2 separate regions of the Homo sapiens genome follow, and region 2 is linked to region 1. Evidence: fine-mapped QTL for protein levels in blood plasma. A gene starts in region 1. The other region holds a variant in brackets. All regions are shown on one strand. Distances are between the middles of the regions. Region 1 holds the start of CLN5 (CLN5 lysosomal BMP synthase). Region 2 has its middle 11 kb from the start of CLN5.

Evidence for each region. A credible set is the group of variants that fine-mapping cannot tell apart. PIP is the posterior inclusion probability: the model's chance that the variant is causal. Protein levels are from the aptamer-based SomaScan assay of Sun 2018.
Region 2: its variant is the best candidate, but not a certain one, in a credible set for the plasma level of the CLN5 protein (Sun 2018, PIP 0.52).

Annotation. Positions count from the first base shown.
Region 1 is chr13:76,989,640-76,994,639 of GRCh38, forward strand. It overlaps CLN5 (CLN5 lysosomal BMP synthase), which reads left to right and starts at 2,442. Exons shown (of 4, transcript NM_006493.4): 1 at 2,442-2,632. The coding sequence starts at 2,460. RefSeq lists silencers at 1,776-1,865, 1,956-2,025, 2,486-2,725 and an enhancer at 2,747-3,946.
Region 2 is chr13:76,978,793-76,984,318 of GRCh38, forward strand. It overlaps the pseudogene RPL7P44. Among named protein-coding and RNA genes, the nearest start is that of CLN5, 11 kb to the right of the region's middle. The variant A/G (reference allele first, on the strand shown) is at 2,273.

The sequences.
Region 1 (5,000 bases):
CTCAAGATTTAAAAGCCATGGACAAGGGGGAAGCAACCAGTATCGACCAGCGATAATCTATGAGCACCTTCAGCTTGGGGTGTGGGGTCATAGACAAAAAGAATGGGGTTTAATCAGTGTTCCCATCCAAGGCAAAACCAGACCAGAAGAATGGGAGCTACCAGGAGGCTGAGTTAAGACCAATACTAGGGCCAGGCATGGTGACTACAGCCTGTAATCCCAGCACTTTTGGAGGCCGAGGCAGGTGGATTACTTGAGGTCAGGAGTTCGAGACCAGCCTGGCCAACATGGTGAAACCTCGTCTCTACCAAAAAAAAAAAAAAAAATTACAACTGGCACACACTTGTACCCAGCCACTAGGGAGGCTGAGGCAGGAGAATTGCTTGAACCCGGGAGGCGGAGGTTGCAGTGAGCCGAAATCACATCACTGCACTCCAGGCTGGGTGACAGAAGGAGACTCCGTCTCCAAAAAAATAAAAAATAAAAACCAATACTAGGAAGTGCTTTCTTACCATGAAAGCTCCCTGCACACAGAATGAAGAGACAGATGGCAGAAGCAAGACCAGAGGCCTCCACCACTGAACAAGGTCAACCTGAATTTGTTTTTGTAGCTCTGGGAAGTCCTGAACTGAATGGGAGGTTCTACTGTGGCCCTCTACTAACAGTAGATGGAACCTGGAACCATCTACTGTTAATTGTCCTTTTAGTAGCCAAGACATGAAGTACCTATCTCCCTTCTTTGTATTTGGTGAAAAGATTTGAACTCGAGCCATCTCTGCTAAAGGCATGACTTTAGTCACCCCACTGCAGTTGCTTCTCTTTGCCTCCAAGAAAGTCCAATCTGATGGGCAGATTGTGCTTGCAGATGACTGGATTAAACTGCAAATATCTCATGAAGCTGCTGCCTGCATCACCGCTCTCCAGGCAGCCACGGAGGCTCTGGTTGTTGAGGCCATCTACTGTGGCCCTCATACATCATACTGTGTATGGTTCCAGGATTTGTAAATGCTCTAATCAATGTTTTTTTTTTTTTTTAAAGCTGTTCCTGCTGATTGCTTTTTAAGCTAGGCTCAAGTGTGGGGCCACGGAATCCTTCAGGTGCCCTTCAAATCAGACATTACATTTCAGCTCTCAGGGCTAGAATGCTTCCCCCTCTTATCTTGGGCAGGTCTTTGAAGAAGCCAGTTTAGCCTTGGTAATTTTGAATTTGGCCATAGTATACGGAGGAGAGCTAGGTAGCTATCAAAACGCTTAGACAAACGTATGGTAAAATGCAGCCCAGCCTGAACCTCCGCAAAACCCCCAAACCTGGAGCAGCAAGTGGGCAAAGGAGTGTGTGTTTGGGGCAGGGTACTGAGTCCCATATGTAATCAAGAGACCTGGAGGGCCCAAGGAAGTCAGTGACACCCCCACAAGCTACATATCCTCCAATGGATTGTGGTGGTCATCTCCGGCTACCGAAGCCACCTTGCTTATTCCCATAGGCTTACAAACATTATGATGCTTCACACGAGTTGTGGGTGAAGTGAAGGAATTGGAAAGTCCCGGTCTAAGGCCCTGCAAAACTGCTGTCTGGTAAAAACAAGTGACTATGGCAAGGCCCTGAATGTACTACGTATAGACTTAAGTCAGTATTTGTGCCTAACAGCAAAGCATGCCACAAGAGGCTCCTCAAAAGCCGGGTAATTGATGCCATTGTTTTCTTGACCTAGTTGAAGAGTCAAAGAAGAGAAGGTGATGCAGAAACTTCTTTCCAGTGAAGTGACAGATCCAAGCAAGGAACACCTGCCTGTGAGGGGAGCGGTAGGGGAGGGGGTAGATTCGGCAGCACTCGGGTAGTGGCAGGGACCACATATTGTCGGTGTTAACCACTGTTATCACTGGCCCAGGTCGAGTGAGGACGAGTCATTTCCCCACTAAGCACTTGGGGAGTGGCAGGGACCACATATTGTCAGTGTTAACCACTGTTATGACTGGCCCAGGTCGGGTGACGACGAGCCATTTCCGCACTATTGTCCCTTCTTCCTCACTGCACCCCCAGCCCTGCACCCTCAGCTCCAAATACACATTCTCGTTCACTCAACGTTTGTTGACACCTAGCGTGGGCCCTGTGGGATGGGGTAAAAGTTCGGTGTTGGGAGGAGCCCCGGTGACAGATTTTTGGTTTTGGTGGTGGCTTTTGGGCAAGGACAGGTCAATTCATAAAAGATGACGCCCCAGGTCTGGATCGAATTCTCCTGGGAGCCAGACCAAAGCACCTTCCTGGACTGCAAAGTGTGGAAGCCGCCGCGGGCCGGGCGCGGGGAGGTGTCATGCGCCGGAACCTGCGCTTGGGGCCAAGCTCTGGAGCTGACGCGCAGGGGCAAGGCGCCCCGCGTCCCGGACTGGCGGCTCCGCGCATGCTCCTCCCACCGGCGTCGCAGGCCTCGAGAGGCTCCGGAAGTACTGGGTGCAGCCTGATGGCGCAGGAGGTAGACACGGCACAGGGCGCCGAGATGCGGCGGGGCGCGGGCGCGGCTCGGGGACGCGCTTCCTGGTGCTGGGCCCTGGCGCTGCTTTGGCTCGCGGTGGTTCCGGGCTGGTCCCGGGTCTCGGGCATCCCCTCCCGGCGCCACTGGCCGGTGCCCTACAAGTGAGTGCGGCGGCGCGCGCACTGTCGGGGTTGGGGTCGGCGTTGACGATGGGGGATGGGGTGCTGGGGCGGGGACCCCTGCTCACCGTGGTTTGTGTCGGGTCACGAGATGGTGCGGGGACAGCGCCGGGTGACGCTCGGAGCGCACTTGAGAGCAAAGTTGAGGACTGGGGAGTCGCAGCCGCTCGTTACGTGCAGCCCTGGGACCTTTCGTCCCCTCTGGTCACTTGCGGCAGACTCAGGACAGTCCTGAATCGTGGAAGAAGAAAAGGAGAGTAATGTTATTTAATGGAGGGACTTCTGGGTACAAGTAGCTGATTTCTTGAGTAGTTTAAAAACACTGTCTATCGCATTTATTTATATCATGCACTGTCGTTAGTTATTACCGCGGAACATTTGGTACAATTTACTGGGCGACCAACTCGCTCTGGTTTGAACCTGATCAGAACCTGATCCGAAGTCCTTATTGGGACTTCCCAGTTTTGCCCTCAAAAGTCGCGCATCCCGGGAATCCCCGTCTCCTGCAGTCCTGGTTAGACCGGGAAGATTGTCACCGCTTTTGTCCAGTCTTCAGCCTGGAGGTAGGACGCCGGTCCTAAGTCGGGGACAGAGCCCGCACACCTGGGAGGTCGATTCCAGCCTTTGACAGAGAAGACACAGCCTCCGGCGGTCAGAGATAGCTAAACACAGAGAAAGAAAACATGGTGTCAACATCAGGCAGGAGAAAGACCAGCAGTTTTTGAAAACAGCTATTTTTCTTTAAACCAAAAGCATCATTGGACATAATTTTAACTTACTAGCATAAGTAATCAACAGCTAAAACTGCACACAACAAACCTGAAAAAAACAGCTATTTTGTATGACAGTATGAGTGGGAAGGAGTTCTGCCTGCTGCGGGTCAAATCTGGCTCTGTCATCACCAGGGATCTTGGGAAAGTTACTCAGAATCTCTGTGCCCACATGCCCTGAGTCAAAAAATAGGAATAGTGGTAGCACGTACCTCATAGGTTTGCTGGAAGGATTAAATCTAGTAAAATGCCAGCTGTTGTCAAACCTAGATAGTGTATTCTGCTCACTGAAATGTTTACAACACTTTTTTGTTTTGTGTGATATACTACGTGGAAAGAGAAGTTTGTGGTTGAAGCTAGTTTTCTGGAAAATGTTAATAATAAAATGTTTGTAAGAAGTCAAAATTACTCAATAGAACAAGAATTGTAAATCCAAACGATTTGATTTAACATTAGGGCAAGGTGTTGACTATGGCTTTTTAGTGGATTTTTTTTTTAAGTCTCAGATATTAAGTACGTGCTCCCATCTAATTCCCTCAATTGAATATAATATTTAAGTTTATTAAGTTCACACTTAAATTACCTTTGAACTAAAATAGATTTTGCTGTGTCAGTGAAATCTCCATGTGATTATGTATTTGTTTAAACCAGGTAAGTGCCTATAAAACACTGTACCCAAGTAGCAGAAACTTTTGGGAGCGTCGTTAATAGTTTCGATTAGCATAAAGATTTTAACTTCTTAAGTTAAAATAGAAATTTTTGTTGATTTGTTAAGATTTGTTAGATCTGGCTACAACCTTGGGGATCTAGGATTCTTAGATAGAAGCTGTTGTCGCCACCACTTCTTTCTTTCCCAGTGCCAGATTATAGGTGACCAGTGTGTCTGTTGAGCTGAATTCAGCTGCAGTGCCCCTCGAGTCCTATTGCTGTGGCCTTCTCCGGTCTTCTTTTCTTGCCTGCATTGTTGAGGTCACCTTCTAACTGATCTCTCATGTTTTATTTGGCCTCTCTCCATACCCTCTTTTAATTCGTGAAATAAGGTTTACTTTATAGCAAATTCAGTCCTGTCAGATCTGCTACTTAACATCCTTTAAGTTTAGCCCTCCCCAATTATAAGGCAGGGAATTCCATGCACATTCTCCTAGTGACAAAATGACAGCCCCTGCCAGTCTCTTCCGTCTCCATTCCTGCGTCGAGGCCTGAAATCCAGTCTTCCGTACCTACCGGAGACCAAATGTGCCAGGCTTGTCTTACAATACTTAACATTTCCTCTGCCTTTCTGTCTTAACCTTCTAATCAACTACATTAAAAACCTAGGCCCGGCCTTCATCTCTTTCTTTGCCCTCCCCACCCCATTCATCCCATACCTGGTTAACAATGATTTGTCCTTCCTGTGTGCCCATAGGACTCATTCCTTTAGTCTAGCACATACCACACTCATTACTTGTTCAGTGTCTTTCCAGCTCCCACCCACAGTTCCATGAGAAAGGGAACAGTGTTTTAATTTTTGTTTCCCTCCTTCTTACTATAGTTCACTATATATGTAGTGGAGCCTCAATAAATATTGGTTGAATGAATGT
Region 2 (5,526 bases), 11 kb before region 1:
AGGTGCAGCAGCTGTGGCGGTTCCTCACAAAGTTAAAGAGAACTACCATGATTCCACTTCTAGGTATATACACAAAAGAATTAAAAGTAGGGACTCAAACAGGTATTTGTACACCCATGTTCATAGCAGCATTATTCACTACAGCCAACAACCCAAATGTCCATCAACAGATGAATGGTACACAAAATGTGGTGTTCTACATACAAGGGAATATTATTCCTTCCTTAAAAAGGAAGGAAATTTTGACAAGTGCTACCACATGGATGAACCCTAAGGACATAGGCCAAGTGAAATAAGGCAGTAACACAAAGACAAATATTATATGATTCCACTTGTAGTAAGTACCTAGAGTAGACAAAGTCTTAGAGATAGAAAGTAGAATGTAATAGAGGCTACCTGGAGCTGGGAGAAAGGAGAATGAGGAATTAGTGTTTCACGGTTGCGGTTGCAGTTTGGGATGATGAATATGGTCTGGGGACGGACAGTGGAGATGGCTCCACAGCATTGTGAATGCACTTAATGCCAGTCGATCACACACTACTTAAAAATGGTTAAAATGGTAAAGTTCATGTTACATATGTTTTACTCCCTCCCCCTCCCCTCCAAAAAACAAAACACTATTGGCAAAGGGGTAGCAGGTGAGGGGCAGGCTGGTCTGGTCCTTGTGACTGCGAACATCCCTGCTGCCCGTTTTTTGTCTGAAGCCCGGCTGGGTCGCTGGAGATCCAGCGGAGTGTGCGGAGGGAGGCGTGTTGGATACCTTTTAAAAATGAGAAGCCCCAGGCCGGGCGCGGTGACTCACGACTGTAAGTCGCGGCCCAACCCTTTGGGAGGCCGAGGCAGGTGGATCACTTGAGGTCAGGAGTTCGAGACAAGCCTGGCCAAAATGGTGAACTCCTGTTTAAAAAAAAAAAAAAAAAAAAAAATTAGCAGGGCGTGGTGGCAGGAGCCTGTAATCCCAGCTACTCGGGAGGCTGAGACAGAAGAATCGCTTGAACCCGGGAGGCGGAGGTTGCAGTGAGCCCAGATCGTGCCAATGCACTCCAGCCTGGGCGACAAGAGCGAGACTCCGTCTCAACAACAACAACAAAAAAAAATTAGAAGCCCCTGGGGACGGAGAGCATTAGGACAAATACCTAATGCATATGGGGCTTAAAACCTAGATGATGGGTTGATAGGTGCAGCAAACCACCAGGGCACATGCATACATATGTAACAAACCTGCACGTTCTGCACATGTATCTTGGAACTTAAAGTAACAAAATAAAATAAAATAAAATAAAAATAAAAATTAGAAGCCCGAGAGAGGGAAAACAGCTTAGGAAGGGGTTGCCCCCGCCACTCCGCAGGCTGCAGAGGGAAGAGAAAGCGCCCCCGTGGCGCCCCCAGGGCCGTGCAGCCCAGACCTAGCCCCGCAGCCCCACATACCCCAGCACCTCCGAAGCTGCGTGCAGAGCCGCTCGCTCCCACCTCCGGCTGCACCCGCGCGCCCCCTTGCGGCGGATTCCGCTCTGGCGCATAGCCCCACTGGAGCGCTGGCGCGTTGGCGATGGGGTCCCAGGTGGGAGAGAGATCTGTCCGCTGAACCTGCGCATCCCGGCCCCTGCGGAGGCTGCAGAGATTCTGCCCTTTCTGTTCGGAGGGAAGAGAGAGGGCGCCAGGGAGACATAAGCTAGATTTTTATTAATAGATAACTTTATTTGAAAATTATCTTTAAACGAAAGAGCAAGGGGAAAAATGGATTCTATCCTTTGCCGCACTACTAAAAAGTAACTTCCATTCAACTTATTTCAAAAGAGAACGTCGATATTGATATGCAATACTTTTAATTGTTTTAAAATATTTAATTGTGTGCAATAATTTTTTTAACTGCTCAGTTCCAAAGCTGGAAGTTGAAGTGATGTTTTTGACAGGGAAGACTGAAGAAGAGACCCCATTGCATCTTCATCGGAGCTGGAGGACAAAAAAAAAATTCTTAGGACACTTAACATGGAGAGTTTGAGATCCGGATACAGCGTGGGCTGTAACTAAGGGCAGTGGAAGCAGGCAGCCTTGGCTAGGATGCCGCTGCTCCTCATGACATTTTGTCTCACAAACTTAGCAAGTTCTTAGAAAGTCCAAAACGCCATATGTGTTGCCTAATTTTCTTATATGATCACAGGAAATAAATAGGAAAAATGCAGATAATTTGCATTTTATTTGATAATTTTTAAATAAAAGTTACTTGTTAATAAAATTTCAGGTAGGATGCTCCCTGAGTTTCTTCTGTACA[A/G]TATCATTCATTGACCAGATATTTGAAGAAAAGTTATTCTTTGTTTTTTTGAGAGCAGGTACTGTTTATTAACTGACCAGCTTAGAAAAATAATCATGGTAGACACCTTAGTTCATTATTCTAATAAGCTGTTGATCTGGTCCTCCCTGTTGCCAGCATCTCCACCTTCTACAAAATGGGTGGTCTTTTTCTTCTTTCCACCTCATGGAGAAGATAATTTGAAGGACCACAGGAAGTTATTTGCTTCTTCGAAGCATTTTCCAACAGTATAGATCTCATGAATCAGATCTTCCGTGCAGATGATGCCATATTTACCAAGCGTTCGAGCAATCAAAGCGTTATCTGTCAAAGCAATTCGCTTCTTATTGATTTTGCCATAACCCCGCTTGTAGATTAGTTTATTTACTGACTTCAGATTTGGGTACCCCCTGCAATATATGGTTCTACAATCCCCAGCATGTTAATTGAAACCTTGTTAAGCTTCACAAAGTTTCCACTGAAGATTTGACGAAGGCGAAGAAGCTGCAACACCTTTCGGACCTTTGGGCTCACACCACTGATACCTCTGATCCTGATGACAAATGCCAATTTGGGTTCTGCAGGTACATAGAAGTTGCCGGCTTTGCTTGCCATCCTTGCCATTCAAATTTAAGTTCCGTATATCTGTCTATATTCCTTGTGATAGTGCTTCGCTTTTTCATAGATAAGCTTCCTCCTTGCCTTTCGAAGCATCTTTTGGGCAAACTTCTTTCTCAGGCATTTGATCTTCAGCTCTGTGAAATTTCTTCGCTTTTTCTTAAGGGTTTCTGGTACAGCAGGAAACTTTTTCTTCTTCTCTTTGACACTCTCCATGGTTCCAGCGGGAAAAGAGGAACTATTCCTTTATTATTAAAAGATGAAATCTGCAATATCCAGCAAACATTACTTTCCCTACTGGATCTTTAAATTATTAGTCCCATGTTCCTCTGATAAAAATTCACTAAGCCTTTATGTCCTGGGTGCTGAATAAACCCTGCATTTACTTTCAAGAAGAAACCTACCTTTCTTAACCTGGAGGTAGATTGCTGCTCATAAGTGACAGATGGAGTACTGTAAATCCCCGAGGGTGATTCTAGCTCTTGACCCAGTAGGATATTTACTGTCAACGATGCCTAGATTTAGAAAGAGGATGTAAACGTGGTGTGACACCAGACAGGGCAAAGAGCAACTGCTTGTGGAAAACACACATGCATCCGTCATCACTGCAGATGAGGAGGAAAAGGAGGACAAGGAGTGAATTTGAAAAGCAGGATAACTTAGTGTAGGTCTGAGTGCCCAAGATCAAACCTGACTCCACCCTCACTGCCTTATGTGATCCCGAGAAATTACTCAAAATATCTGTACCAACGTTTCCTCAGGCTGAAAGTAGGAAGTAGCACCTTTTTCATAGAGTTGTTGGAAAGATTAAAAATAGTAAATGTCATCTCTGTCAAAACCTTGATACTAGTGTATTTCTGTTCACTGAATGGTTTGTACCCCTTTAGTTTCCTTGATATACGTTGATTAAAAAAAAAAAAAATTTGACTGGGCCCGGTGGCTCACGCCTGTAATCCCAGCACTTTGGGAGGTAGAGGCAGGCAGATCACCTGAGGCCAGGAGTTTCAGACCAGCCTGGCTAATGTGGCGAAACCCCGTCTCTACTAAAACTACAAAAATTATGTGGGCCTGGTGGCACATGCCTGTAATCCCAGCTACTCGGGAAGCTGAGGCAGGGAGGCAGAGGTTGCAGTGAGCCGAGATTGCATCACTACACTCCAGCCTGGCCTACAGAGCAAGACTCTGTCTCAAAAAAAGAAAAAAAAAATCAACAAAATTGATTAAAATGTCTAATTGGCTTTTATTAGTGACTCATAAAACAGGCAGTTGCTAATCAAAATAGAGGGAGCTTCAATGAGCCTGGCAGACCAGTTGGTTTTCCTAAGGTAGCTTGAACAGAAATAGGGAAACAGGAATACAAAAAGTGAATTGGTTAACATCAGTTTACTTCAGGTTACTTTACTTATAAAGGGTTAAAGCAGAGAGGACTTCCTTAACATGCTGACTTAGGCTGACTGGGCCCTTTCTGATTGCTTGCTGTGAATCTCTTGTTTTTACGAAAAGCCAGTCTATTTTGGGAATTTTCCCGTTTACGTTTCAGTTTGATTACAGTTCGATTACTTAGCACGAGCGACCCCATTTTGGTTCAATCTGTTGCGACCTAATGCAGGGGCTCAGTTCAAAACCATGGCCTCTCATACATTTTATTTAACAACACAAAGAAAAGAGTTTTTGTTCTGAAGCCAATTTTCTTGCGGCTATTGATAAATCGATCATAACAGAACTAAAAAATATATTCAATAAACAAGTACAAGATTAAAGAATTGTCTAAACAATGTAATGTAATAAGCAAAATAAATCCAAATCACTTGATTTAGGATTAGGGTAAGGTGTTCCTTATGGCTCCACAGTTTGTTTTTAAGTATTACCTATTAAGTAGATGTCTCACTCTAATCTCTGCCTTCAGTGAATATTATAAATTTTAATTTTATTAAATTCACACTTAAATGATGCTTTTAAAATTATCTTTGGGTCGGGCACAGTGGCTCACGACTATAATTCCAACACTGTGGGAGGCTGAGGCAAGAGGATTACTTGAGCCCAGGAGCATGGGCAACAAAGTGAGACTCTGACTCTACCAAAAACATTTTATTTAATTAGCCAGGCATGGTAGCACAGGCCTGTAGTCCCAGCTACTCAGGAAGTGAGGTGGGAGGATCGCTTGAGCCTGAGAGGTCAAGGCTGCAGTGAGTCATGATCATGCCACTGCACTCTAACCTGGACAACAGAGCGAGACCCTGTCTCAAAATAAAAATGAAAATAAAATTATCTTTGAACTAAAATAAATGATGCTTTAGGCAAGTGAAATTGTCGAAACTCTGAAAATAGGATGTACGTATAGTTGATGTATTTGTTTAGCCCAGTTTATCATGTAAACAACAGGTTAGTATACCCAAGTTTCAGAAACACTTTGGGGGTTCATTAATTTTTGGTTACCTTTAAGATTTTCTTAACCTCTTACATGAATATTTGTGTCAGGGCCAGGCTCTGTGGCTCATGCCTTTAATTCCAGCACTTTGGGAGGCCAAAGCAGGAGGATCGCTTGAGCCCAGGAATTCGAGACCAGCTTGGGAACGTAGTGAGACTCCTTATCACTACAAAAAATTTAAAATTATTTG